Homo sapiens: one gene and its partners. The protein of the gene in region 7 purifies or fractionates together with the protein of the main gene of each other region. This does not show direct contact. Each region holds a gene or a part of one and is shown on either strand. Other genes may lie near its edges.

Region 1 (3,500 bases), on a different chromosome or scaffold from region 7:
GAGAGAAACAGCGCGCACTCAGATTTTTAGAAGAAGAAATCTGGAGAGGACGTGAGAGAGAGAAACAGCGCGCACTCAGATTTTTAGAAGAAATCTGGAGAGGATGTGAGAGAGAGAAACAGCGCGCACTCAGATTTTTAGAAGAAGAAATCTGGAGAGGATGTGAGAGAGAGAAACAGTGCGCACTCAGATTTTTAGAAGGAGAAATCTGGAGAGGAGATATGGGGTCAGTAAAAGGTTTTTAAAGGATGGGAGCTTTCAGCGCCTGTTTGCACGCTGGCGAGAATAACTCACTGGAAAGAAGAGACTGATGCTGCAGAATGGAGAAGAGATGATCAAAGGAGCTGCAGAGCTGAGGGGATCAGATGGAGGCATCTCCCTGGGGAGAGCTGAGGGGAACGGATGGAGGCATCTCCATGGGGAGAGCTGAGGGGGTCAGATGGAGGCATCTCCACGGGGAGAGCTGAGGGGATGGGATGGAGGCATCTCCATGGGGAGAGCTGAGGGGAACGGATGGAGGCATCTCCATGGCAAGAGCTGAGGGGATGGGATGGAGGCATCTCCATGCGGAGAGCTGAGGGGAACGGATGGAGGCATCTCCATGGGGAGAGCTGAGGGGGTCGGATGGAGGCATCTCCCTGGCGAGAGCTGAGGGGAACGGATAGAGGCATCTCCATGGGGAGAGCTGAGGGGGTCAGATGGAGGCATCTCCATGCAGAGAGCTGAGGGGGTCGGATGGAGGCATCTCCATGGGGAGAGCTGAGGGGGTCGGATGGAGGCATCTCCATGGGGAGAGCTGAGGGGGTCGGATAGAGGCATCTCCATGTGGAGAGCAGAATAAGCACAGATCCACCAGCAGTGGTTCCAGGGCAGCCTGAGGTTGTGGTAAGGCACAAATGCTAAGTCTAGACAAGCAGTCTACACAGGTGGCAGTGAAGACATCGGTCCTTGGCTGAGGTCAACCCAACAGCGAAAGGACGTGGTTCTGACATTAAGAACCTGGACCCTGTTGCTTAGTCTCCTCCCACACACACTTAATGCCATCCCTCTCAGGCCCATGGTGACATAAATGTAGAAATGGGACTCACATCATCCAACAATTTGCTTCCCTCTGGATCCATCTTAGAAAGTTCTCGAAATGCTTCATCCCCGACAAAGCAAATTTCATGTCCGTCCTACACCAATAAAGAGAAAAGACACCTGCCAAAGACATCCTTGAAGAAACCCCTGGTCCAGCCTGCCCCCTGCCTGAGAAATACTTACAGGGTCGGCCAGAATGACCACCTGTACTGTTGCTTTCCCTGGGGTGTCCAGGCTCACCAGGGGAGTCAGAATCTTCTGGTTCTCCCTTTTCATCAAGTCTTCTAAGTCTGGCAACTTGAGGAAAACAGAGGCAACGTGAGCCAGGGGTCACACACTACTCAGGACACGGCCCTCGTCAGTCCTAGAGGAGTATCAGATACCATAAAGAACCAAGGCGCCATTTGTTTGAATTTATTATCTCAGCTGCTCTTGAAACAACTGCTGAACTTGATACTAAAGCCACAATCAAAAAGGACCTCAAGAAGGGAAGGACAAAGTTCTTAGCTGGGTTGAACTAGCTAGTCAGAAAGCTCAAACGATCTGGTATCAAGCGTTACCTCTTTCTGGGGGCAAGAGAAGGCAATTCTTCCAAAAGCTGCTGCATGGTCCACCCCACCCTTGACGCCCTGTAGCTCCAGCTTACACTGAAATAGGAAAGGGGGTTATTTTTTGGAACAGGTTATACATTCATTACACGTATGTGGTAGAAAAATTCAAATATTATATACTAAAGGAATAAAGTAAAAACTGAGTCTCTATCCTACTCTCACCCCAGAGACAACTAGTCCACACTTTCCTGTGTATCCTTCTAGAAGCACTGCACGCATCTATGTTTTTTTTTTTACACAAATGGTGGTATAATTTACAAATTATTCTGTTCCTTGTTTTTCTCCACTTAATGTTACCATGTCAATACATAAAGATTTGCCTCAATCTTTTTGCTAGCGACATAGTAATCCATTCCATGAATGAGCCGTAAATTACTGAAATATGTCTCTAATCTATAGGACACTGAAATTCTTACACATTGTGATTACAGACAATGCTGCAGCAGATAACCTTGCACACACTTCTTTGTGCCGATGTATGTTGAGCACATCTGTAAAATAATTCCTAGGAGTAGAATTGCAGGGTCAAAGTGCAAGGACTAAATCGTGCTCAAACGCTGGGTTATTAGAAAAAGAAGATGAAAAAGATCTTGCATTAAATCCATTCAATCTCTTGGATTAAGCAATTCCACTTCTGAAGAGATATATCCCCAAATATAAACAAGGTAATATCTGGGTGGTAAGGTTATCACTTATTTTCTTCTGTTTATCTATATAAATATTGAATCACTGTGAAGAAACTATGGGAACAACCTTCATGTTAACTTCATTTATAAAGGTTATAAGCCATTTATAAGCTTCGTTTACAAGCCAAATTCAAAGTAACAGGTTATTCTTCTCCAAGATTGCTCACCTGGTTATCAGCATAGCCCAGCAAAGCCCTTTGCTTTTCTTCATCTTTTTCATAAATTTTCATTCCCAGTAGATTACACCAGTAGTTCAAGGACTTTTGAAGATCAGACACTGCTAGAGTTACTTTTAATACAGGATCTGTTGGGTAATAAAGCAGGAATAGACAGATCAATTTAATAGAATAAAATAGAAAGACCAAAACATGCGCATGTATACTTACAAATTCAGTTTATGATAAGAAAGGGATTTTAAGCCAGTATGAAGCTGGGTGCAGCGGCCCATGCCTGTAATGCCAGCACTTTGGGAGACTGAGGTAGGAGGATTGCGTGAGCCTAGGAATTCAAGACCAATGCAGGTAAAACACTGAGACCTTGCCTGTATGAAAACTTTAAAAAAATTGGCTGGGTGTGGTGGCTGATGCCTGTAATCCCAGCACTTTGGGAGGCCAAGGCAAGTGGATTACCTGAGGTCAGGAGTTTGAGACCAGCCTGGCCAACATGGCAAAACCCTGTCTCTACTAAAAATAAAAAATAAAAAAAATTAGCTGGGCGTGGTGGCGCACGCCTGTAATCCCAGCTACTCGGGAGGCTGAGACAGGAGAATTGCTTGAACCTGGGAGGCGGAGGTTGCAGTGAGCCGAGATGGCGCCGTTGCACTCTAGCCTGGGAGACAAGAGCAAAACTCTGTCTCAAAAAAAAAAAAAAAAAAAAAAAAGATTAGACAGGCGTGGTGGCTCATGTGTGTATTCCCAGCCACTTCAGAGATGGAAGCAGGAGGATCGCTTGAGCCCGGGAGGTTGAGGCTGCAGTGAGCCAAGACTGCACTACTGCACTCCAGCCTGGGTGACAGTGAGACCCTATCTCGAAAAAAAAAAAAAAAAAAAAAACAAAGACAGTATGAAAAGCCTCATTATTCAATGGACGGCGCTAAGAAGACTGGCTAATCATTTGGTAAGAA
Region 2 (4,210 bases), on a different chromosome or scaffold from region 7:
CCTGTAATCCCAATACTTTGGGAGGCTGAAGCAGGCAGATTACTTGAGGCCAGGGGTTCCAGACCAGGCTGGTCAACATAGTGAAATCTCATCTCTACTAAAACTACAAAACTTAGCCGAGTGTGGTGGCACGCGCCTGTAATCCCAGATATTCGGGTGGCTGAGGCACGAGAATCGCTTGAACCTGGGAGGTGTAGGCTGCAGTGAGCCATGATGGCACCACTGCACTCAGGTGAAGAGTACACCAACACCTCCAAAATCACCACTAAAGAACTAACCCATTAACCAAACACCACCTGTGCCCCCAAAACTACTGAAATTTTAAAAATAAATAGAAATTTAAAATTTTTTTAAAATCCGCAAAAACTTCTTGAGTTCTAGTCCTAGTTTTGCCAGCTACTTAATATGAAATTTTTATTCCCATTTATCTACCCTCCCTACCTCATAGAATTGTCTTAAGAGTCATACGAAACAATACACGTGAAAGATCTTTGCTACCTGAATCACTGCAAACCCCCTTGTGTCACGGTATTTTAGAGTAAAAGGAGTTTTTCTGACTCTCAATTACTGATAGCTTATCGAGTTGTTAAACTTCAAAGACAGAACTACAGTTTCTAGAACTGCTCTGTCTGTCTATAAGAACTTTGTGCCATAACAAAGATGTTCTACACATACTTGCAATGTCCAATACAGTAGCCACTAGCCACATGTGGCTACTGAGAACTCGAAATGTGGCTAGTGTAACTACGAGATTGAATCTTTAATTTTATTTACCTTTAATTATGTTAAACTTCAATAGCCACATGTGATTAGTAGTTACGGTAGTTACAGCACAAGTCTCATTAACACAGTAAGAACTGGAAAATCCAGTTGTAGCTCCAAAGTCTGTAAGAGGAATGATAAGACCATGAATAGAAATTGTGCCAATAAAGAGGGCAGCAGGATTATGAGGAAATAGACGTGCTCCCCTTTAAAACAACCTGACATATCCAAATCCAAAAAACAAATCTGAGAAAGATAACTCCCAATTACTACAAAAACATTCATGTTCCCTTATACCAGTTACACAAGCATGTTCAATATCTGTCCCAATTGATTCAGTTGTCCAAAACTCATCCATTGTATAACAGAAAGCAAGGTACCCACACTGGTCAAAGACAGGGGGGGAAGTGCAGAGGAAACAGGAACAAATAAATCTGGCTTGCCTTCTCCCTGATTTCCCCCAAAGTTCACACAACAAAAATGTATGGAGCACCCACTAGATAACGGGATTAGTGGGGAAAAGATGACTGAAAGTCTTAGACCCTGCTCTCAGAGACCTCAAAAAGAAACTAGACAAAGCAGCGTACAAATCCAACACACTCTCCCTCTAGTTCTCGATTCCTGCTACCCTACATCATGCGGTCAAAGAGCTGTCGAGAGATCTGCATTATATAAATCGCCACCATGTTGGTAAAAATTATGTGTAAATTGTATCTCTAGTATATCTAAGGAGTGTCTTTGAAAAACAAATATGCCCAAGAACCTAAAACTTCAACACATTTGGGATAAATTGTCACATTTCTTTCAATATTTAATACAAAACTCTCTTAACATTGTGAACCTAAGAAGCTGCTGCTGCTGCTGCTGCTGCTGCTGCTGCTGCTACCAAGTGGCATCTACTGAGCCCTCATTACGTGCTAGGCACAAGACTACCTGTATCGCTGTATTAACTCATTGATTCTTCAATTAACCATAGGAGGTCTACACTGTTATTATATCCAACTTGCAAATGGAGAAACTGGGTTCCTAAGGACTGACCAAGTTAGGCACGTCAGACAATCAGTGCCAAAGCCAAGTTTCAAGTCCCGGCAGATTACTTCAACGCAGGGGCTTTCAACACTTGAGCAACTAGCAAAGGGCCTACAGGGCAGCAGAGGGTATGGGCTGGGTGTATTCTACCTGGACACCCCCTGACAAAGACCTGGGACCTGGGTGTCCTCTCAAAGCAGGGCAAGGCCCTGAAAAAAACAGCTGGCAGGTGTGTCAGGCCAGGACAGCAGGAGGGAAGCCTGTCGCGAAGGTCACTGCCAGTTTCGGGCAGAGCAAAGGTCAGATCCCAGACAAATCACACGGAGAACAAGCAGCAGCAAAGTCCCGGCTTTCCTCAGGGCACGGGAAGCGCTGGGAAAGGGAGCTGGGCGTCCAGGGTCCCCGATTCCCGCCGGGAGTGGGTGATGCGGAAAGGAACTCTGCGGTGCGACGGAAGGGAGGCAGCGACGCCACCGAGCAGCGAGACGGAGCCGCGAGAGCACCCCAGAAGAGGGGGGCGAGAGGCAGGCCTCCGGGGTGTGGGCCCGGCGCGCAGAAGGCACTGGAACCAGAGACTCGGCCCAGAGAGCCAGGCGCCACCCACCGGGGACCCCGGCCCGCGCCGGCGATCGCGCCCGCACGGCGCCCTACCTGCTCCGGGCCCGCGCCGACACGCTCAGCGACCGGCTCGCCTCCGCGCTCCCGCCCGGCCCCCGGTTCCTCAGCAGGCCGCTGGATCCAGCGCGGGACCCAGCGTGGTGCAGCCACCGGCCGGCCGGGCCGCCGAGGACAGCAGAAGCGGCGCGCAGCAGCCGGGCGCCCCCAGCGGCAGCCATCGCCCGCGGTCGGGAACTGCCGGAAGCGACGCAGGCCGCGCTTTGAGGCCGCGAGAGACTCCAAAGAGGCGGGGGCGGCAGCTGCGGCGCAGACGCCCGAGGGCCGCGGCGAGGGGCGCGGGGCTGGAGTGGCGGAGAGACCCTGCTGGAAGCACCGCGCCGAGGTTCCGCGTGCCTTCCGGGTGACCTATAAAGACATTGGCAAGCAGAGCGCGGCCCCGCCCCGCCTCTCACGCCCACGCCGCCCGGTCCCATGGGGCGGGGCCAGCGCAGGGGGCCTTTACCAACCCTCCAGGTTCCGTTGTAAGCTGGATGCTTTTTTAGCGGCTGAAGTTGCCGTGCAGAAACAAAATATTTTGAAAGATAGCTGGACGTCTAGCGGAAATCGGTTAGCTAGACCACTGTGTTCTGTTCCGCATACCCCCATCCCCTAGCCGTTAAAAAAAAAACTGGGAAATTGTGTCATCTTGGAGTCAAGTTAGAGCAAAGTGAATTCTGCCCACTGTAAAACAAAAACAGTGGGAAATTTTGGAAAATCTCAGAATGCTATTATACAAAGAAATAATTATGACTATAAAATTGTAAATGAAATTAATGAATAGGCTTGGGGCTCCTGCAGAGGACAGGTAGCCATCCTAGACCTTGACTGGCAAGTAAATGCTGGCTGAGTACATGAAACCCACGAGACTGAACCGGAAACTTTGTGATGAGCTGAGATCTCTAAAAGACTTTCACAAAAAACAGAAAAGATGAACTTTAAAATACACCTTATCATGGTTCATATGTTGTGGGAAATGCATGGGCTTTAAGGTCAGAAATAGCAATGTTCAGATCCAAGATCTACTGCTTTAGAGATCTGAGACCTTGGAAAAATTATTCTCATGGAGGATCAGAGTTTCCATAACTCTCAAACACAGATAAGATGTTCCAGCCTTCAGGGCCATTCTGATGTTAATCTAATACGCAATGCACACCGTGCGTCACAAACCAGGAAGGCTACCGCTTCCTGGGCCTTCCTCCATCAGGGTACTCATAAAGAGGCTAAAGGCCAAAGTCAAGGGGATATTGCAGATATGCTAAACACAATCAGATACTTTTTTTTTCTTTTTTTGACATGGGGTCTCTCTATTCTGCCCAGGCTGTAGTGCAGTGGCGAAATCTCGGCTCACTGCAACCTCCGCCTCCCAGGTTCAAGTGATTCTCCTGCCTCAGCCTCCCGAGTAGCTAGGACTACAGGCGTGTGCCACCACACGCCACTAATTTTTGAAGATTCAGAACAAGAAAGTGTAAGCATGAGTAAAGTATCTGCGGACAATGTATGGTGCTTTCTGGAACCCAATGGCAGAGAGAAGGCAGTGGCTCCTAATTGCCTCAAATCGTTGGATGAAGAGAAAGTCTTTCAAGCTGCGAAGGGCACAGCAAACCCTGACAAGTAATCTTGAAGAGGAGGTTGTAAAAGAACAGCTAACTTTTGTTTTTAGTAAGACCAAACTTCCAAGGTCGGATGAATTAGTTGTAGGAAGAGAATTGAAAAGAAAAAAAATCGTAGATGTTCTGTCTTCTCTCAGCCCTCCTGTAGCAAA
Region 3 (3,500 bases), on a different chromosome or scaffold from region 7:
TGTATTTGTTTTTAGAGGCAGGGTTTCACCATGTTGCCCTAGCTGGTTTCGAACTCCTGAGCTTGAGCAGTCTGCCCACCTTGGCCTGCCAGGGTGCTGTGATTACAGGCGTGAGCCACTGCACCCAGTCTGGCCCAAGAATTCTAACCTCTGAGCGTCTAGCTGAAGATCTTCCTGTGTGTAGTGGGCTAACAAGGCTGCTCAGATTTTGGAACAGAATCATGGACTTCACTGGGTGTCTGTCCAATAACTTTGAAGAGATAGAAAATATAATATTTTGCAAGTGCCAAAAGATAGAGGGATGCAGTTTGGGATGATGAAAAGAGCTCTGGAGATGGATGGTGATGGTTGTACAGAACTGTGAATGTGCTGAATACATTTTAAAATGGTGGGCTGGGGGCAGTGGTGCACGCCTGTAACCCCAGTGCTTTGGTAGGCCAAGATGGGAGGATCCCTTCAGCCTAAGAGTTCGAGAACAGTCTAGGCAATAGGGCAAAACTCTGTCTCTACAAAAAAATATAAAAATTAGCTGGGCATGGGCCAGGCGTGGTGGCTCACGCCTGTAATCCCAGCACTTTGAGAGGCCAAGACAGGCGGATCACGAGGTCAGGAGATCGAGACCATCCTGGCTAACACGGTGAAACCCCGTCTCCACCAAAAATACAAAAAAATTAGCCGGGCACAGTGGCGGGCGCCTGTAGTCCCAGCTACTCAGGAGGTTGAGGCAGGAGAATGGCGTGAACCGCGGGGGGCAGAGCTGGCAGAGCCGAGATTGTGCCACTGCACTCCAGCCTGGGCGACAGAGTGACACTCCATCTCAACAAAACAAAAAAATTAGCCAGGTATAGAGGTGTGCAGCTGTAGTCCCAGCTACTTGGGAGGCTGAGGCAGGAGGATCACTTGAGCCCGGGAGGTCAAGGCTGTAATGAGCCATAATCACACTACTGTGCTTCCAGCCTTAGCTGGAGACCCTGTCTTGGGGGAAAAAAAAAAGGATAAGATGGGAAATTTTATGTTATATGTATTATTTGGCCACAATAAAAAAATGTTTTAAGAGAAAAAAAAAGATGGAGGGAAGGAAATTTGGCAAAGAAATAACAGAATTTATTTTGTAGAGTCTTGTGCACTTGAACCTCAGAAGCTTCTTTTTTTTTTTCTTGAGATGGAGTCTCGCTCTGTCGCTCAGGCTGGAGTGCAGTGGCACGATCTCTGCTCACTGCAAGCTCCACCTCCCAGGTTCACGTCATTCTCCTGCCTCAGCCTCCCTAGTAACTAGGACTACAGGCACCCGCCACCATGCCCAGCTAATTTTTTAATATTTTTAGTGGAGACGGGGTTTCACCGTGTTAGCCAGGATGGTCTTGATCTCCTGACCTCATGATCCGCCCACCTCGGCCTCCCAAAGTGCTGGGATTACAGGCGTGAGCCACCGCACCTGGCGAACCTCAGAAGCTTCTAACCTGCTTTTTTTCCCTTTGAATTTCAGGTCACAAGAGGACCAGATTAAAAATGCTATTGATAAACTTTTTGTGTTGTTTGGAGCAGAAATACTAAAGAAGATTCCGGGCCGAGTATCCACAGAAGTAGACGCAAGGTAAGGATGCTTGCTCCTGCACTGGATGGGCTGGTCAGGTGTCCACAGTTGCACACGTGGATGCCAACATGAGGTCAAGGGGCTGCTCCACCCATGGTCTTCATCCCAAGGGCCCAAGAGGAGGTTTATTTTGAGCTCTCCCACAGTTGGTAGTGATGACCAAGAGCTCCTTGTTTAGCAACTGATCTCTAGTGTTTTTTATTTTTATTTTTATTTATTTTTGAGATGGAGTCTCGCACTGTCACCCAGGCTGGAGTACAGTGGCGCAATCTCAGCTCACTGCAACCTCTGTCTCCCGGCTTGAAGCGTTTCTCTGCCTCAGCCTCCCAAGTAGCTGAGATTACAGGCACCTGCCACCATGCCCAGCTAATTTGTTGTATTTTTAATAGAGATGGGGTTTGACCATTTTGGCCAGGCTGGTCTTGAACTCCTGACGTCATGATCCACCTGCCTCGGCCTCCCAAAGTGCTGGGATCACAGGCATGAGCCACTGTGCCCGGCTGCTAGTGTTTTTTGTTTTGATTTGTTTTGTTTGTTTTTTGAGACAGAGTCTCGCTCTGTTGCCAGTGTAGAGTGCAGTGGTGTGATCTCAGCTCACTGCAACCTTCACCTCCCGGGTTCAAGCGATTCTCCTGCCTCAGCCTCCCAAGTAGCTGGGACTACAGACACCCGCCACCATACCCAGCTAATTTTTTTGTATTTTTAGTAGCGACAGGGTTTCACCATGTTGGCCAGGATGGTCTCGATCCCTTGACCTTGTGATCTTCCCGCCTCAGCCTCCCAAAGTGTTGGGATTACAGGCGTGAGCCACGGCACCTGGCCCAGTGTTTTTTAATACAAATTATAGCCTATGGATCCCACTGAGGACCTCTGTTTGTGAGACTGGGTGTGAGTTGCTGTCAGAGCCATTCTGCAAACCTCCAGTGAGGGGAAGGTTGAGGGCAGTGGTTGGTGCTCACGGTGGTGCTGCTCAAAACTGACAGGCAGACACCCGGCCTCCAGCTTGCTCTGCGTGGTGGGCAACCTGCGTGATCTGAGGGGATGGGTTCTTCTTGCTCCTACAGGCTCTCCTTTGATAAAGATGCGATGGTGGCCAGAGCCAGGCGGCTCATCGAGCTCTACAAGGAAGCTGGGATCAGCAAGGACCGAATTCTTATAAAGCTGTCATCAACCTGGGAAGGAATTCAGGCTGGAAAGTAAGTGGTCCCCCACAAGGAAGGAGCTCTCAGAGATTTTTCCTCTGTTGGAGCAGGGTCTACATGGCATCAGGCAAGTTTGACTCTCTCAGCCCTGGGGAATGCCAGACTGGGGAGCACAGCCCACAGCTTGGACTTGACCAGCTCATGTCAGCCTAGATCTGCCCTCTGCTCCAGAGCCAGCTCCCTCACTTGCTGGTGATCAGAAATGAGGGATTTCCCAGGAAGTACCATCCACCCACTCAGCAGAGAAGAAAAGCCACTAGTTAGCACCTGCAGATTCAGATTCTGTCCTTCCTCTGTCCTGATCAACACAAGCCTATGTTTACATGATTTTTAAAAAGTAAACTATTGTTATATAAAATATATGCTGGCTGGGCAAGATGGCTCATGCCTGTAATCCCAGCAATTTGGGAGGCTGAGATGGGAGGATCACTTGAGCCCAGGAGTTCCAGACCAGCCTGGGCAACAAAGTGAAACCTTGTCTCTACAAAAATATAAAGAAATTTTAGGCTGGGCACGGTGGCTCCCAGCACTTTGGGAGGCCGAGGCGTGGGGATCACGAGGTCAGGAGATCGAGACCATCCTGGCTAACACGGTGAAACCCCGACTCCACTAAAAAATATAAAAAATTAGCCGGGCATGGTGGCACACACCTGTAGTCCCATTTAGGAGGCTGAGGCAGGAGAATTGCTTGAACCCAGGAGGCG
Region 4 (3,500 bases), on a different chromosome or scaffold from region 7:
GCCTCAAAAATTGACATCAAATGCAGTTGTTTTTCAACATATTTATGTGAAGTGAGTTTTTTTTGCCAATGACTAAGATTAAAAAGAAAGTAAATTTTGGGGATTTAATTGTATTTTAGATCATAGAAAAGTTGATAAATTTGTGATGAGAGAAAATTGTATACATATTGTAAAATAGGACATTGTGATTTTTTTCTGCTTTCTAAGTATTTAAATATATCCCTTAAACAATATATTTAATTTGAAGTTGCCTCTCATCCTCCTTTAGGAAAGACTTTTATTCTGAGCTTTTCTCTTTCCTTGATTTTAGTCTTTCATGAAATGATATTAAAAATAGACTTAATAACATTTTTTTAAAAACCTGATACAGGCTCCCCAGTTTTATTATTTTATTTCACTCATCCATGAAATCCAAAGGTTTGCTCCTTGACCTGGAAGACAGGTGTAGACTGAATCAAAGAATGATAAGGTTTAAACTTCCTTCTGGTGGGGTGCAGTGGCTCATGTCTGTAATACTAGCACTTCAGGAGCCCAAGGTCAGAGGATTGCTTGAGCCCAGGAGTTTGAGACCAGCCTGGGCAACATGGTGAATCCCCATCTCTACAAAAAAATTAAAAAATCAGCTGGGCATGCTGGTGCACGCTTATGCTCCCAGCTACTTGGAAGGCTGAGGTGAGAGGCTCGCTTGAGTCCTGGAGGTCGAGTTGTGATGCTGCCACTGCAGTCTAGCCTGGGTGACAGAGCAAGACCTTGTCTCAAAAAAAAAAAAAAAAAATGTAGATTAAAAGGAACCCTTGCAGACTGTTGGTGAGAATGTAAATTGATGCAGCCGCTATGAAAAACCCCACTGCACTGCAGCCTGGGCAACAGAGTGAGACCCTGCCTCAAAACAAAAAAATAAATAGGCTGGGCGCGGTGGTTTACACCTGTAATCCCTGCACTTTGGGAGGCCGAGGCGGGTGGATCACCTGAGGTCAGGAGTTCGAGACCAGCCTGGCCAACATGGTGAAACCCCCATCTCTACTAAAAATACAAAAAATTAGCTGGGCATGGTAGTGCGTGCCTGTAATCCCAGCTACTCAGGAGGCTGAGGCAGGAGAATCGCTTGAACCTGGGAGGTGGAGGTTACAGTGAGCTGAGATCACGCCACTGCACTCCAGCCTGGGGAACAAGAGCAAAACTCTGTCTCAAAAAATAAAAAATAAATAAATAAAATTGCTTCTGTCACTGGCCCTAGCAGCTTTGGCAAATCTCACCACTTAGGGCCTCGAACTCCTCACCTGTGAATGAGGGACCTGACCATGGTCATCCCTGAAGTCCCAGCATTTAACTCGTAACATGACAAAAAGCAAACCAGGGCTGGGCACAGAGGCTCACACCTGTAATCCCAGCACTTTCAGAGGCCGAGGTGGGTGGATAGCTTGAGATCAGGAGTTCGAGACCAGCTTGGCCAATATGATGAAACCCCGTCTCTACTAAAAATAGGAAAACAAATTAGCTGGGCCATGGTGGCGCATGCCTGTAGTCCCAGCTACTTGGAAGGTTGAGACAGGAGAATCGCTTGAACCTGGGAAGTGGAGGTTGCAGTGAGCTGAGATTGCACCATTGCACTCCAGCCTGGGCATCTCAGTGAGACTCCATCTTAAAAAAAAAAAAAAGAAAAGGAAAAAAAAAAAAAAAGGCAGCATGGTAAGGCCGGGTTTTTATAGATTGGGTCTTTGGAGTGTGCTGTTGGCCTTGGCCACATAGCTGTCTCCTGCCATGCCCTGGCTTTGTGGGGCGCCTAAACCTGTTTTCAGATGATGATTTTGAGTGAGATACAAGTGTAGCTACTTGGAAAAGATTCAGTAGCATCCCTGAGCTATAGTGATAGAAACCCCGTCCTTGTCCCTTCTGTGGAGCAGCCTGTTGGAGCTTCTCTGGGTTGGCCTAGGCCCAGAGATGAGGTCAGCAGCTCAAGGGTCTAGTGTTTTTAGCTGTCTTCCCAGCCCTGCTCCAGAGCCCCCATGTAACCTGCTGCCCTGCAGTGCCCAGCACAGAGCAGTGTCTGTTGAATGCGTGAGTCAAGCAAAACATCAAACAGAATCCTTGACATGGGAAAAACATGCTCCCAGCCACCACCAGCTGAACATTGACATCCAGCTGCTTTCCCACTGGGCAGTGGCTTGTGAAGATGGGGACAGAGTATCATAAATCATCTCCTTTGTGGACAGCAGGGATGATCCTGACCTTCTTGTCACAGACTAAACAGACTAAGTAGCCAGAAGAAAAAAAAAGAAAGAAAGAAAAAAGGGGCTTAAAGGCACTCAGCTGTCAAAATTATAAGGAGGGTTTGTTAAAACTATTTTTTAAAAAAGAAAAGTGGTTAAGTTATGCAGTAGGATATAATATTCTATAATAACTTATTACCAAACTTTTAGCCTTAATCCAGTTGCTATTTTCCTCTTGTCTATTGGATAGACGTATGGAATGTTCTTTTTTTCCCTAAATTTAGTCATGTGCATTTTTTTTCCTATTTATATTGTGGGTTTTTTTTTTTTTTGAGATGGAGTCTTGCTCTGTAGCCCAGACTGGAGTGCAGTGGTGCAATCTCTGCTCACTGCAACCTCCGCCTCCCGGGTTCAAGCGATTCTCCTGCCTTCCAAGTATCTGGGATTACAGGCATGCACCACTATGTCTGGGTAATTTTCATATTTTTAGTAGAGACGGGGTTTCACCATGTTGGCCAGTCTGGTCTTGAACTCCTGACCTCAAGTGATCCACCCACCTCAGCCTCCCAAAGTGCTGGGATTACAGGCGTGAGCCACCGTGCCCTGCCTATATTGTGGATTCTATGTAGATGTTCCAGTGGCTTTTAGGAAGGTCTTTATGATTTCACACATCTGTCTACAGTCATGTCTGCAGAGCAGACTCTCCCCACTCCCTCTGCAGACAGCTGTAAAACATTGTCTTTCATCTCACAGGTATTAGCTTCCTACATGAGTAAAATCAGGTTTAAGTGAATAAAAATTGTGCATCTCTTCCCATGTACCAGGGAAGTATTTTTGGTGCCTCCAAAGACCGAGCACGGTTCACGCCTCTGCTGGCCTTCACACCGCTGCAGCCACACAGTGCAGAAGCCTGCTCCCTGCTGCCCACAAGCATGAGGCAGGTGGGAAGGGGGATGCTCGTGCCACCTTGTAGGCGGGCAGGCAGTCTCATGGGCAGAGGTGTACACAAGGTGGGTGATGAGGAAGACAGCTCTAGGGTATGAATGATCAGCTGCTGAAAAACATCCAGTGCTCAGTGTGGGTACTTAGAGTTATTCTCATAAAAAATGTGAGGCAGAGTTAGTCAGGTGTGGTGATGCATGCCTGTGGTCCCAGCTACTCAGGAGGCTGAGGCAGGAGGATTGCTTGAGCCCAGTGGTTTGTGGCTTCAGTGAGCCATGATTGTGCCACTGCACTCCAGCCTGGCTGACAAAGCGAGACCATGTCTCCAAGAAAAAAAAAAAAAATTTC
Region 5 (3,500 bases), on a different chromosome or scaffold from region 7:
GCAGCCTTACTCCTAAAATTATCTTCACAGGTAGGCAAGATGGCAAGGTCAAAGAAGGTAGTCTCAGGTGGTGTTTATAGTTGTCCAGTGCTTACTTTGAAAAGGTGTTTTAGCTTCAAACTGCTCATAATTGGCATATAACCGGCGATTTGTAGCAGAGTGAGAGAATTAAGTGTTAAAGACAAATAACTATATACTATCTATTTTCCTCAGAATCCTCTTAATAAACTTTAAAAAATCACGTCATTCTGCAACTTTTTTTTTTTTTTTTTGGAGATGAAGTTTCGCTAGTCGCCCAGGCAATGGTGCAATCTCGGCTCACTGGAATCTCCGCCTCCCAGGTTCAAGTGATTCTCCTGCCTCAGCCTCCCAAGTAGCTAGGATTATAGGCGTGTACCACTACACCTGGCTAATTTTTGTATTTTTAGTAGGGACTTGGTTTCACCATGCTGGCCAGGCTGGTCTTGACCTCCTTACGTCAGGTGATCCGCCTGCCTTGGCCTCCCAAAGTGCTGGGATTGCAGGCATGAGCCACTGTGCCCGGCCTGCAACATGATAATTTAAGGGGAAAAATATATATATTTTTCTCCCAAAGTGTTGAGATTACAGGCATGAGCCACCACGCCCAGGGATTTTTTTTGTTTGTTTTTTTTGAGACTGAGTCTTGCTCTGTTGCTTAGGCTGGAGTGCAGTGGCGTGATCTCAGCTCACTGCAACCTCTGCCTCCTGGGTTCAAGCAATTCTCATGCCTCAGCTTCCCAAGTCGCTGGCATTACAGGAGTGTGCCACCACACCTGGCTAATTTTTGTATTTTTTTAGTAGAGATGTGGTTTCACTATGCTGGCCAGGCTGGTCTCAAACCCCGGACCTCAGGTGATCCACCCGCCTCGGCCTCCCAAAGTGCTGGGATTACACGCATGAGTCACTGTGCCTGGCCTGCGACATGATAATTTAAGGAAAAAAAAAATTATTTCATTCCTTCAGCTTTTGAGTGCTTGCTATGTGGCAAGCACTGTATTTAAAATTGGGAAAACAAATGAAAATAAGATAAACCTTGCTGTTTCTTGGTGGGTACACAGCCTACTTCCTGGGGAGACTGACAGATGATCTCTAGTATGTTCAGCACCGTGTGTGTGCTGGGGGATAGTGGTACAGGGTGCCGTAAGAGCATGTTGGCTGGCCTAAGAACCTAGACTTGGTTAGACAAGCCTTTGGGCAGGAACGGACTTCTGAATCTAGACCGGAAGTAGTTAGTAAAGATGGTAGGGAGAGTCTTTCAGTCAAAACACAGTGTACACATCTTAAACTTTCTTACCTGAACGTCAGAGTGACCTGAAACATTCAGTTCTTTGAAGTGGAATGAAGCAAAATAAATTTCTTAGTGACACATTTTTTGACTTCTTCCACTGAAGGGGTATGAACTTTAGAAAGTTTCATAATTAAGGGGAAAAGAAAGCAATATTGAATTATATACTTGGCTAGGCACGGTGGCTCACACACTATTATCCCAGCACTGTGAGAGGTTGAGGTGGGAGGATCATGAGCTCAGGAATTTGAGACCAGTCTGGACAACATAGACCCCCCCATCTCTACAAAAATAAAAAATAAAAATAATAATTATACACTCTACTTACGTTGTGCTGCGTATCAGAGCTGTAACCAAAGCAATTGAATGCTGTTTTAAGTACTACTATCCTTTGGGTAAGGGGTAAAATGAGCCAGTGAGGCCTCTTTAAAACAGTATTTGAGTTAACCATTTTTCTATGAACTTACGTTGCATTGTTTTTAGAAAAATACTTGGTGTCAGAATATGAACTGTATTTAATATAGCATATGCTTTTTAAAAAATATTATTCTCTAAGGCAAGTACTTTTAACTTTATATCCTAAATAACTCTTTTTACTCTTGAACATTGGCCGGTCCTTCTTTCAGGATTCCCTGAATCGTTTGACCGTATCTTTAGAGAAGTGCTCAGTAAGTCGAGGGCTGAACCTGTCCAGTGAGTGGTGAGCAGAGCTTGATTCTCCACCAACCCATGGCTTAGCTCTGAGAAGACTGTTGAGTTGTGATCTTAATTTTCTTCTTTAAGCGATGGTAGTGCTATCTTCAAGGTTAGGCTTGAATTTGATTAAAGTAGAATTTTAAGAACTTAGTCAAATTATAGTTGTTCCAGGAGGTCAGTTTCATTCCTGTAAAATTTTACTTTGTAACCCAAGCTGCACTGAAGCTCTCTTAGGTCAACTCTGCCTAAAGAGGCACCTGATTATTACTGTTATTTTTTTTTTTAGGTTAAATCATTTCTTATATGAGCCATCTTTATGCTGCCTCCCTAAACCTCATCACCCCAAATTTGTCTTCAGAGGCACAGATTTTTTTTTCTGCAAGACAGACCAGTAATAGTTAAGTATACATTTGAAATATGCTCCAAAATTTTCTTTTGTGATTTAGGCTAAGTAATGTTAAAGCAGATAATCCAATCTCCAAAAGATGCACAAGGTGTTCAGATGAAGCCATCTTTGCTTAAATGGTACTGCTGTTTAAATGCGTCATCTCTATACATGATCTTCATTCTTTCCTGAGCCATGCACTATTTAAAGGTAGTGTCAACAGGTCAAACAGAAATTCTGGGAAAGTCTTTTGAAAGCAATGGTAATGAAAAGTGCTTCTTAAGAAGTAATGCTACTGCTTTTCTGAAATGTTGGTCTTCTGTTTTAGTGCGTAAATTCACAGAGAAACACGAATGGGTAACAACAGAAAATGGCATTGGAACAGTGGGAATCAGCAATTTTGCACAGGTATTGGATTATATTGAAATATTTGTCCCAGTGTGCTCTTGCATGATTTGCTTTATCTCTACCTTTTTAAAAGTGTTTAGGCTGCGTGAGGTGGCTCATGCCTGTAATCCCAACACTTTGGGAGGCTGAGGCAGGAGGATTGCTTGAGGCCAGGAGTTCAAGACCAGCCTGGTCAACAAAGTGAGACCCCGTCTCTACCAAAAGTTAAAAAAAAAAATTAGCCTGGCATGGTTGCTCATGCCTGTGGTCCCAGCTACTCAGGAGGCTAAGGCAGGAGGGTCGCTGGAGCCCAGGAGGTTGAGGCTGCAGTGAACCATGATCATGTCACTGCAAAATACAAAAATTAGCTGGTCTTGGTGGTGCACACCTGTAATCCCAGCTCGTCAGGAGGCTGAGACAGAAGAATCACTTGAACCTGGGAGGCAGAAGTTGCAGTAAGCCGAGATTGCACCACTACACTCTAGCCTGGGTGACAGAGTGAGACTCCATCTCCAAAAAAAAAAAGAAAGAAAGAAAGTAAGAAAACCAACCAGAGTTGAATTAAGTAAAACATAATTTAGTTAGGGCATTATGTGGTGTTTTAAGAGATGTTGCAAGCTTAACACTGAAAGTAGGAAACATGTCCTATTCAAGAAGGAAATGTGTGTGTTTTGTACTGGGCAATTAAGGAAAGAGGAAAAAGAAGAGCAGGGTGTTGCCACCATT
Region 6 (3,500 bases), on a different chromosome or scaffold from region 7:
TTTCCAGGAATGGGATTATTGAGATGGAGGGTTCTAAAATAATTATAGGCATACCCTGAAGGGTATGGTTCCAGACCATTGCGAGTTAGGTTCCAGACCACAGTGATAAAATGAATATTGGAATAAAATGAGTCACGTGAAATTTTTCGTTTCCCAGTGCATGTAAAAGTTATATTTACAGTAGTATACTGTAGTGTTTTAAGTGTGCAATAATAGCATTATGTCTGAAAATATTGCATGTACCTTAATTTAAAAATACTTCATTGCTAGGCTGGGTGTGGTGGCTCATGCCTGTAATCCCAGCACTTTGGGAGGCTGAGGCGGATGGATCACCTGAGGTTGGGAGTTCGAGACCAGTCTGACCAACATGAAGAAACCCCGTCTCTACTAAAAAATACAAAAAAAATTAGCTGGGCGTGGTGGCAGGCACCTGTAATCCCAGCTACTCGGGAGGCTGAGGCAGGAGAATTGCTTGAACCAGGGAGGCAGAGGTTGTAGTGAGCCAAGATCGTGCCACTGCACTCCAGCCTGGGTGACAAAAGCAAAACTCCGTCTCAAAAAAAAATCATTGCTAAAAAATGCTAATGGTTATCTGAGCCTTCAGCGAGTCAATCTTTTTGCCGATGGAGGGTCTTGCCTTGATGTAGCTGGCTACTGACCGATCAGAATGGTGATTGCTGGTTGGGGTGGCTGTGGCAATTTCTTGAAGTAAGATAACAATGAATTTTTCTACATTGATGGACTCTTCCTTTCATGAAAGATTTCTCTGTAACATGCAATAGTGTTTGATAGCATTTAAAAATTTTAAAGTAAATATTCTTTGCCTGAGGCTAATCTCAAGAGGTCCTGAGAACATGCACCCCTGTTTGATAGTGTTTTTACCCACAGTAGAACCTTTTTCAAAATTAGAATCCATCTTCTGAAACCCTCCTGCTGTTTTAACAACTAAGTCGATGTAATATTCTAAATTCCTTGTTGTCATTTCAACAATGTTCTTAGCATCTTCACTAGGTATACATTCTATCTCAAGAAACCATTTTCTTTGCTCATCATAAGAAGCAACTCCTCATCCATTCAAATTTTATTATGAAGGTAGAACAATTTGATTACATTTTCAGGCTCCAGTTCTAATTCTAGTTCTCTTGCTATTTTCAACACATATGTAGTTCCTCCCTCCACTGATGTCTTGAACCTGTGAATGTCGTCCATGAGGGTTAGAATCCACTTCCTCCAAACTCCTGTTAATGTTGCTATTTTGACCTCCTCCCATGAATCATGAATGTTCGTGTTTTTTTTTTTTTTTTTTTTTTGGACGGAGTTTTCGTTCTTATCGCCCAGGCTGGAGTGCAGTGATGCGATCTCGGCTCACTGCAACCTCCACCTCCCAGGTTCAAGCAATTCTCCTGCTTCAGCCTCCTGAGTAGCTGGGATTACAGGTGCCTGCCGCCATGACCAGCTAATTTTTTTGTATTTTTTAGTAGAGTTGGGGTTTTGCCATTTTGGCCAGGCTGGTCTTGAACTCCTGACCTCAGATGATCCGCCCGTCTCGGCCTCCCAAAGTGCTGGGATTACAGGTGTGGTATGAGCCACCAGACCTGGCTGAATGTTCTTAATTGCATCTAGAAAGGTAAATCTTTTCCAGGTCACTTTGCTTTGCTCAGATCCATCAGAGGAATCACTTTCTATGGCCTTATGAAATGTGTTTATTAAATAATAAGACTTGAAAGTCAAAATTTATGGACTGCAGAATGGATGTTGTGTTAGCAGGCATGAAAACAACCATGATCTCCCTGTATATCTCTATCAGAGTTCTGGGGGGACTAGTGCATTGTCAATGAGCAGTAATATTTAGAAAGGAATCTTTTTTTCCTGGGCAGTGGGTCTCAACAGTGGGCTTAAAATATTTAGTAAACCATACTGTGAACAGATGGATGTGCCATTATCCAGGCTTTATTGTTCCATTTATAGAGCATCTGTAGAGTAGCTTCAGTATAATTCTTAAGGGTTCTTCAAATTTTGGAATGGAAGATGAGCATGGGTTTCAACCTAATGTCAACAGCTGGATTAGACTCTTAACAGAGTCAGCCTGTCCTTTGAAGATTTGAAACCAGACGTTGACTTTTTCTCTGTAGCTATGAAAATCATAGATGACATCTTTCAATAGAAGGTTTTGTCTGCATTAAAAATCTGTTTAGTGTAGCCACCTTCATCAATGATCTATCTAGAAGATCAATTCTAGATAGATCATTGTTGAAGGTAGATCAGATTTTCTAGATAGATCATCAGATGAAGGTGATGAAGGAAGATCTAGATAGATCAGCTAGATCTTCTAGATAGATCAGCTAGATCTTCTAGATAGATCAGCTAGATCTTCTAGATAACTGGCTGCATGCAGCTTCTGCATAAGCATTTGCTGCTTCATGTTTTACTTTTATGTTACAAAGATGGCCTCTTTCCTTAAACCTCACGAACCAACCTCTGCTACCTTCAAACTTTCTTCTGTAGATTTGTCACCTCTCTCTGCCTTGATAGAACTGAAGTGAGTTAGGGCCTTGATCTGGATTAGGTTTTGGCTTAAGGGAATGCTGTGGCTGGTTTGATTATCTGGACCACTCAAACTTTCTCCCTATTGGCAATAAAGCTGTTTTTCTCTATCATTTGTGTGTTCACTGGAATAGCACTATTAAATTTCCTTCAAGAACTTTTCTTCTGTATATGCTGTTTGGCTGTTTGGTGGAAGAAGTCTAGCTTTCAGCCTATCTCAGCTTTTGGCCTGTCTCAGCTTTCGACATGCTTTCCTCACTAAGCAGAATCATTTCTAGCTTTTGATTTAAAGTGAGAGATATGTGACTCTTCCCTTCACCTGAACACTGAGAGGTCATTGTAGGGTCATCAACTGTGGGCTAATTTCAACATTATTTTGTCTCAGGGAGCAGGAAGGCCTGAGGAGAGGGAAAGACAGGGGAACAGCAATCACTGGAGCAGTCAGAACACATATGATATTAATCAGTTAAGTGTGCTGTCTTATATGGGTGTGGTTTGTGGTGCCCCCAAAACAATTACAAGAGTAACATCAGAGATCACTAATCACAGATCATCATAACAGATACAATAATAATGAAAAGTTTTGAAATATTGCGAAAAATACCACAGTGTGACAGAGACATGAAGTGAGCACATGCTGCTGGGAAAAATGGCGCCATCTTGCTTGACTCAGGGTGCCATAAACCTTCAATTTGTAAAAAACGTAATATCTGCAAAGCACAATGAAGCAAAGCTCAATAAAGCAAAGCACAATAAGACAAGTTATACCTGAAGTTACTCAATTTGGTTTTTTTTTGTTTGTTTTGTTTTTTTTGAGACAGAGGCTCACTCTGTCACCCAGGCTGGAGTGCAGTGGCACAATCTTGGCTCACTACAACCTCTGCCTCCTGGGTTCAAGTGATTCTTGTGCTTCAGCCTCCCAAGTAGCTGGGATTACAGGCACCTGCCACCATGCC
Region 7 (3,500 bases):
CGAACTCCCGACCTCGTGATCCACCAGCCTCGGCCTCCCAAAGTGCTGGGATTACAGGTGTGAGCCACCGCGCCCAGCTAATTTTTGTATTTTTAGTAGAGAAGAGATTTCACTATGTTGGCCAGGCTAGTCTCGAACTCCTGACCTCAAGTGATTTGCCCACCTCATCCTCCCGAAGTGCTGGGATGACAGGCGTGAGCCACTGTGCCCAGCCTGTTGTCTTAGGAAATTCATCCATGGTGGCTATGCCCCAGGGAAGCAGGCCCCGCCTTCCTCCCCACAGATGAGGGCTATGGATCAGAACCCAGGCCAGGGCGCCCCCAGGCCTGCTGCCATCAAACACCGCGAGACAGTGCAGACTTCCAGCAACGCTCCTTTTAATATCCGGATGTCCAGAGCCACAGCCTGTGTGTTGAGCCCCGGGTAGGGCTGCTGGCCGGAGGCTGTTGGCTTCCAGCAGCAGCACGACGTGGCTTTTTGAAAGGAGAGCCCGGAGAGTGGCGGCCAGCAGGGGCCCAGCCCCATGGGCCGCGTGCCTGGTCCCAGCTGCGGCGTCCCTCTGGCCAGCTACAAAGTGGAATGCTTCTCGAAGGGCACGGTCAGGAGGCGGGCGGCCGCCTCGTCCAAGAACCAGCACAGTTTCCCGGTGTGGGGCTGGACCAGGGCGGCGGGCAGCGGGTTTTCCTCCTGGTCCTCCAAAATGCGCTGAAGAAGAGGGCAGAAGAGTAAGGCCCTGCCTGCGGCCCAGGCACCGCCCCTCGGCACTCTCCTGGCTCCCCAACCAAGGATAAATAAGACTCTTGTATCCTCAAAATGTGACAATGCCCAGCTCAGCTGTCCTAGTGCCAAACAGCAGGGACAAGAGTCCCTTCCTTTCTATCCACTGTAACTATTTTTATTTATTTATTTATTTATTTTGAGATGGAGTCTCACTCTGTCTCCCAGGCTGGAGTGCAGTGGTACGATCTTGGCTCACGGCAACCTCCGCCTCCCGGTTTCAAGCGATTCTTCTGCCTCAGCCTCCTGAGTAGCTGGGATTACAGGCAAGTGCCACCACGCTCGGCTAAGTTTTTTTTTTTTTTTTTTTTTTTTTTGAGATGAACTCTCGATCTTATCCCCCAGGCTGGAGTGTGATGGCGTGATGGTGCGATCTTGGCTCACTGCAACTTCCGCCTCCCGGTTTCAAGCAATTCTCCTGCCTCGGCCCCCCAAGTAGCTGGGATTACAGGCGCCTCCCACCACACCTGGCTAATTTTTTTGTTTTTGGTAGAGACGGTTTCATCATGTTGGTCAGGCTGGTCTAGAACTCCTGAACTCAGGTGATCCACCCGCCTAGGTCTCCCAAAGTGCTGGGATTACAGGCGTTAGCCACCGCGCCTGGCCTAATTTTTTATATTTTTAGTAGAGACGGGGTTTCACCATATTAGCCAGGCTGGTCTTGAACTCCCACGTTGAGCCACCATGCCCCGCCCACTGTAACTATTTGCATTTTTTTTGAGACAAGGTCTTGCGCTGTCATCCAGGCTGGAGTACAGTGACGGCATCAAGGCTCACTGCAGCCTCAATCTCTGAGGCTCAAGTGATCCTCTTGCCTCAGTCTGCCAAGTATCTGGGACCACAGGCACATGGCACTGTGCCCAGCTAATTTTTTATTTTTTGTAGAGACAGGGTCTTGCTATGTTGCCAAGACTAGTCTCAAACTCCTAGACTCAAGCAATCCTCCTGCCTCAGCCTCCCAAAGTGCAGGCATGAGCCACTGTGCCTGGTCTGTAACTGTTTAATACTGCGGTTGGCACCCTTTTTCAGCAAAAGACCAGAGTCAATAGATTAAGCTCTGCAGACCATCCAGTCTCTATTGCAACCACTCAGCTCTGCAGTTCTGGCCCCAGAACAGCTGCAGACAATATATACATAAGCGGGTGTTGCTATGTTCCAATAAAACTTTTCTGGGCCGGGTGCGGTGGTTCATGCCTGTAATCCCAGCACTTTGGGAGGCCGAGGGGGGCGGATCACTTGAGGTTGGGAGTTTGAGACCAGCCTGGCCAATGTTGTGAAACCCTGTCTCTACTAAAAATACAAAAATTAGCTGGGCGTGGTGGCAGGTGCCTGTAATCCCAGCTACTTGGGAGGCTGAGGCAGGAGAAGCACTTGAACCCGGGAGGTGGAGGTTGCAGTGAGCTGAGATGGCGCCACTGCACTCCAGCTTGGATGACAGGGTGAGAAGCTGTCTCAAAAAAACAAACAAACAAAACAATTTCTGGACACTGTAATCTGAACTTCATAGAATCTTCACAAGGTCAAGGAGTATTATTCATTTGATTTTTTTTTTTTTTTGAGACTGAGTTTCGTTCTTGTCGCCCAGGCTGGAGTGCAATGGCATGATCTCGGCCCACAGCAACCTCCGCCTCCCGGGTTCAAGTGATTCTCCTGCCTCAGGCTCCTGAGTAGCTGGGACTACAGGCGCACGCCACCACGCCTGGCTAATTTTTGTATTTTTAGTAGAGACAGGGTTTCGCCATGTTGGCCAGGCTGGTCTTGAACTCCTGACCTCAGGTGATCCGCCTGCCTCAGCCTCCCAAAGTGCTGGGATTACAGGCATAAGCCACCGCGCCCCGCCTGATTTATTTTTTTTGGAGATGAGTTCTCGTGATGTTCCCCAGTGCAGTGGTAATTCACAGTTGCAATTACATTTCACTATAGCTTCGAACTCCTGAGCTCGAGTAATCCTCCTGCCTTAGCCTCCTGAGTAGATGGGATGATAAGCATGGCCTGGCTCTTCATTTGACTTTTTTCCAACCACTTAGAAAAGTAAAAACCAGGCTAGGCACGGTGACTCATATCTGTAATCCCAGCACTTTGGGAGGCCAAGGCAGGTGGATCACATGAGGTCAGCAGTTTGAGACCAGCCTGGCCAACATGGTGAAACCCCCTCTCTACTAAAAATACAAAAATTAGCCAGGCCTGGTGGCAGGCGCCTATAATCCCAGCTAGTCAAGAGGCTGAGGCAGGAGAACCGCTTGAACCTGGGAGGTAGAGATTGTAGCGAGCTGAGGTCACATCAGTGCACTCCAGCCTTGGCGACAGAGGGAGACTCTGTCTCAACAACAATAACACAAAAAACAAAAAAAAAATAAAAATATATTTCCAGTTTCTTCTGTAGTTGTTGGTCTTTTCAATGAAGGCAACTAAAACCTTTTTAATTATTTAGTTTATTTTTAATGCTGTAATGAATTTGTATTTTCCTAAAATACTTTACATAACAGTACCTTTTTTTATTCATAATACCACGTGATTTTTTTTTCTCTTGATTAGCCTTGTCAGGAGCTTTTCTATCTTTTAGATCTACTTACCATTAAAGTTTAAAATATATTAACCAACTCATTAATTTCTGACTTTAATTTCACTTAGTCCTGCCACTGACTTTTGTAGATTTATATTATTGTCCTTTTTCTAATTCTACAGGAAAGCACTTGATTTATTTCAATAGTTTGCTACTTAAT

Evidence for each region.
Region 1: the proteins of PGLS (region 7) and GLOD4 fractionate together in Homo sapiens (co-fractionation; one large-scale study listed by BioGRID). This does not show direct contact.
Region 2: the proteins of PGLS (region 7) and FDX1 fractionate together in Homo sapiens (co-fractionation; one large-scale study listed by BioGRID). This does not show direct contact.
Region 3: the proteins of PGLS (region 7) and TALDO1 fractionate together in Homo sapiens (co-fractionation; one large-scale study listed by BioGRID). This does not show direct contact.
Region 4: the proteins of PGLS (region 7) and IMPA2 fractionate together in Homo sapiens (co-fractionation; one large-scale study listed by BioGRID). This does not show direct contact.
Region 5: the proteins of PGLS (region 7) and GCSH fractionate together in Homo sapiens (co-fractionation; one large-scale study listed by BioGRID). This does not show direct contact.
Region 6: the proteins of PGLS (region 7) and CLIC4 fractionate together in Homo sapiens (co-fractionation; one large-scale study listed by BioGRID). This does not show direct contact.

Annotation. Positions count from the first base shown.
Region 1 is NC_000017.11:768,781-772,280, forward strand, and holds part of GLOD4 (glyoxalase domain-containing protein 4), read right to left. Parts: intron 2,682-3,500; coding exon 2,545-2,681; intron 1,728-2,544; coding exon 1,641-1,727; intron 1,378-1,640; coding exon 1,264-1,377; intron 1,176-1,263; coding exon 1,089-1,175; intron 1-1,088.
Region 2 is NC_000011.10:110,428,538-110,432,747, reverse strand, and holds the start of FDX1 (adrenodoxin, mitochondrial precursor), read right to left. Parts: upstream 2,801-4,210; 5' UTR 2,628-2,800; coding exon 2,443-2,627; intron 1-2,442.
Region 3 is NC_000011.10:757,464-760,963, forward strand, and holds part of TALDO1 (transaldolase), read left to right. Parts: intron 1-1,486; coding exon 1,487-1,594; intron 1,595-2,658; coding exon 2,659-2,790; intron 2,791-3,500. UniProt on the Homo sapiens protein: Catalyzes the rate-limiting step of the non-oxidative phase in the pentose phosphate pathway. Catalyzes the reversible conversion of sedheptulose-7-phosphate and D-glyceraldehyde 3-phosphate into erythrose-4-phosphate and beta-D-fructose 6-phosphate.
Region 4 is NC_000018.10:12,002,007-12,005,506, forward strand, and holds part of IMPA2 (inositol monophosphatase 2), read left to right. Parts: intron 1-3,500. UniProt on the Homo sapiens protein: Phosphatase that can use myo-inositol monophosphates, myo-inositol 1,4-diphosphate, scyllo-inositol-1,4-diphosphate, glucose-1-phosphate, beta-glycerophosphate and 2'-AMP as substrates in vitro.
Region 5 is NC_000016.10:81,089,896-81,093,395, reverse strand, and holds part of GCSH (glycine cleavage system H protein, mitochondrial precursor), read left to right. Parts: exon of another isoform or gene 1-2,305; coding exon of another isoform or gene 2,306-2,399; intron 2,400-2,715; coding exon 2,716-2,795; intron 2,796-3,500. UniProt on the Homo sapiens protein: The glycine cleavage system catalyzes the degradation of glycine. The H protein (GCSH) shuttles the methylamine group of glycine from the P protein (GLDC) to the T protein (GCST).
Region 6 is NC_000001.11:24,814,947-24,818,446, forward strand, and holds part of CLIC4 (chloride intracellular channel protein 4), read left to right. Parts: intron 1-3,500. UniProt on the Homo sapiens protein: In the soluble state, catalyzes glutaredoxin-like thiol disulfide exchange reactions with reduced glutathione as electron donor. Can insert into membranes and form voltage-dependent multi-ion conductive channels.
Region 7 is NC_000019.10:17,518,149-17,521,648, reverse strand, and holds the end of PGLS (6-phosphogluconolactonase), read right to left. Parts: intron 706-3,500; coding exon 568-705; 3' UTR 361-567; downstream 1-360. UniProt on the Homo sapiens protein: Hydrolysis of 6-phosphogluconolactone to 6-phosphogluconate.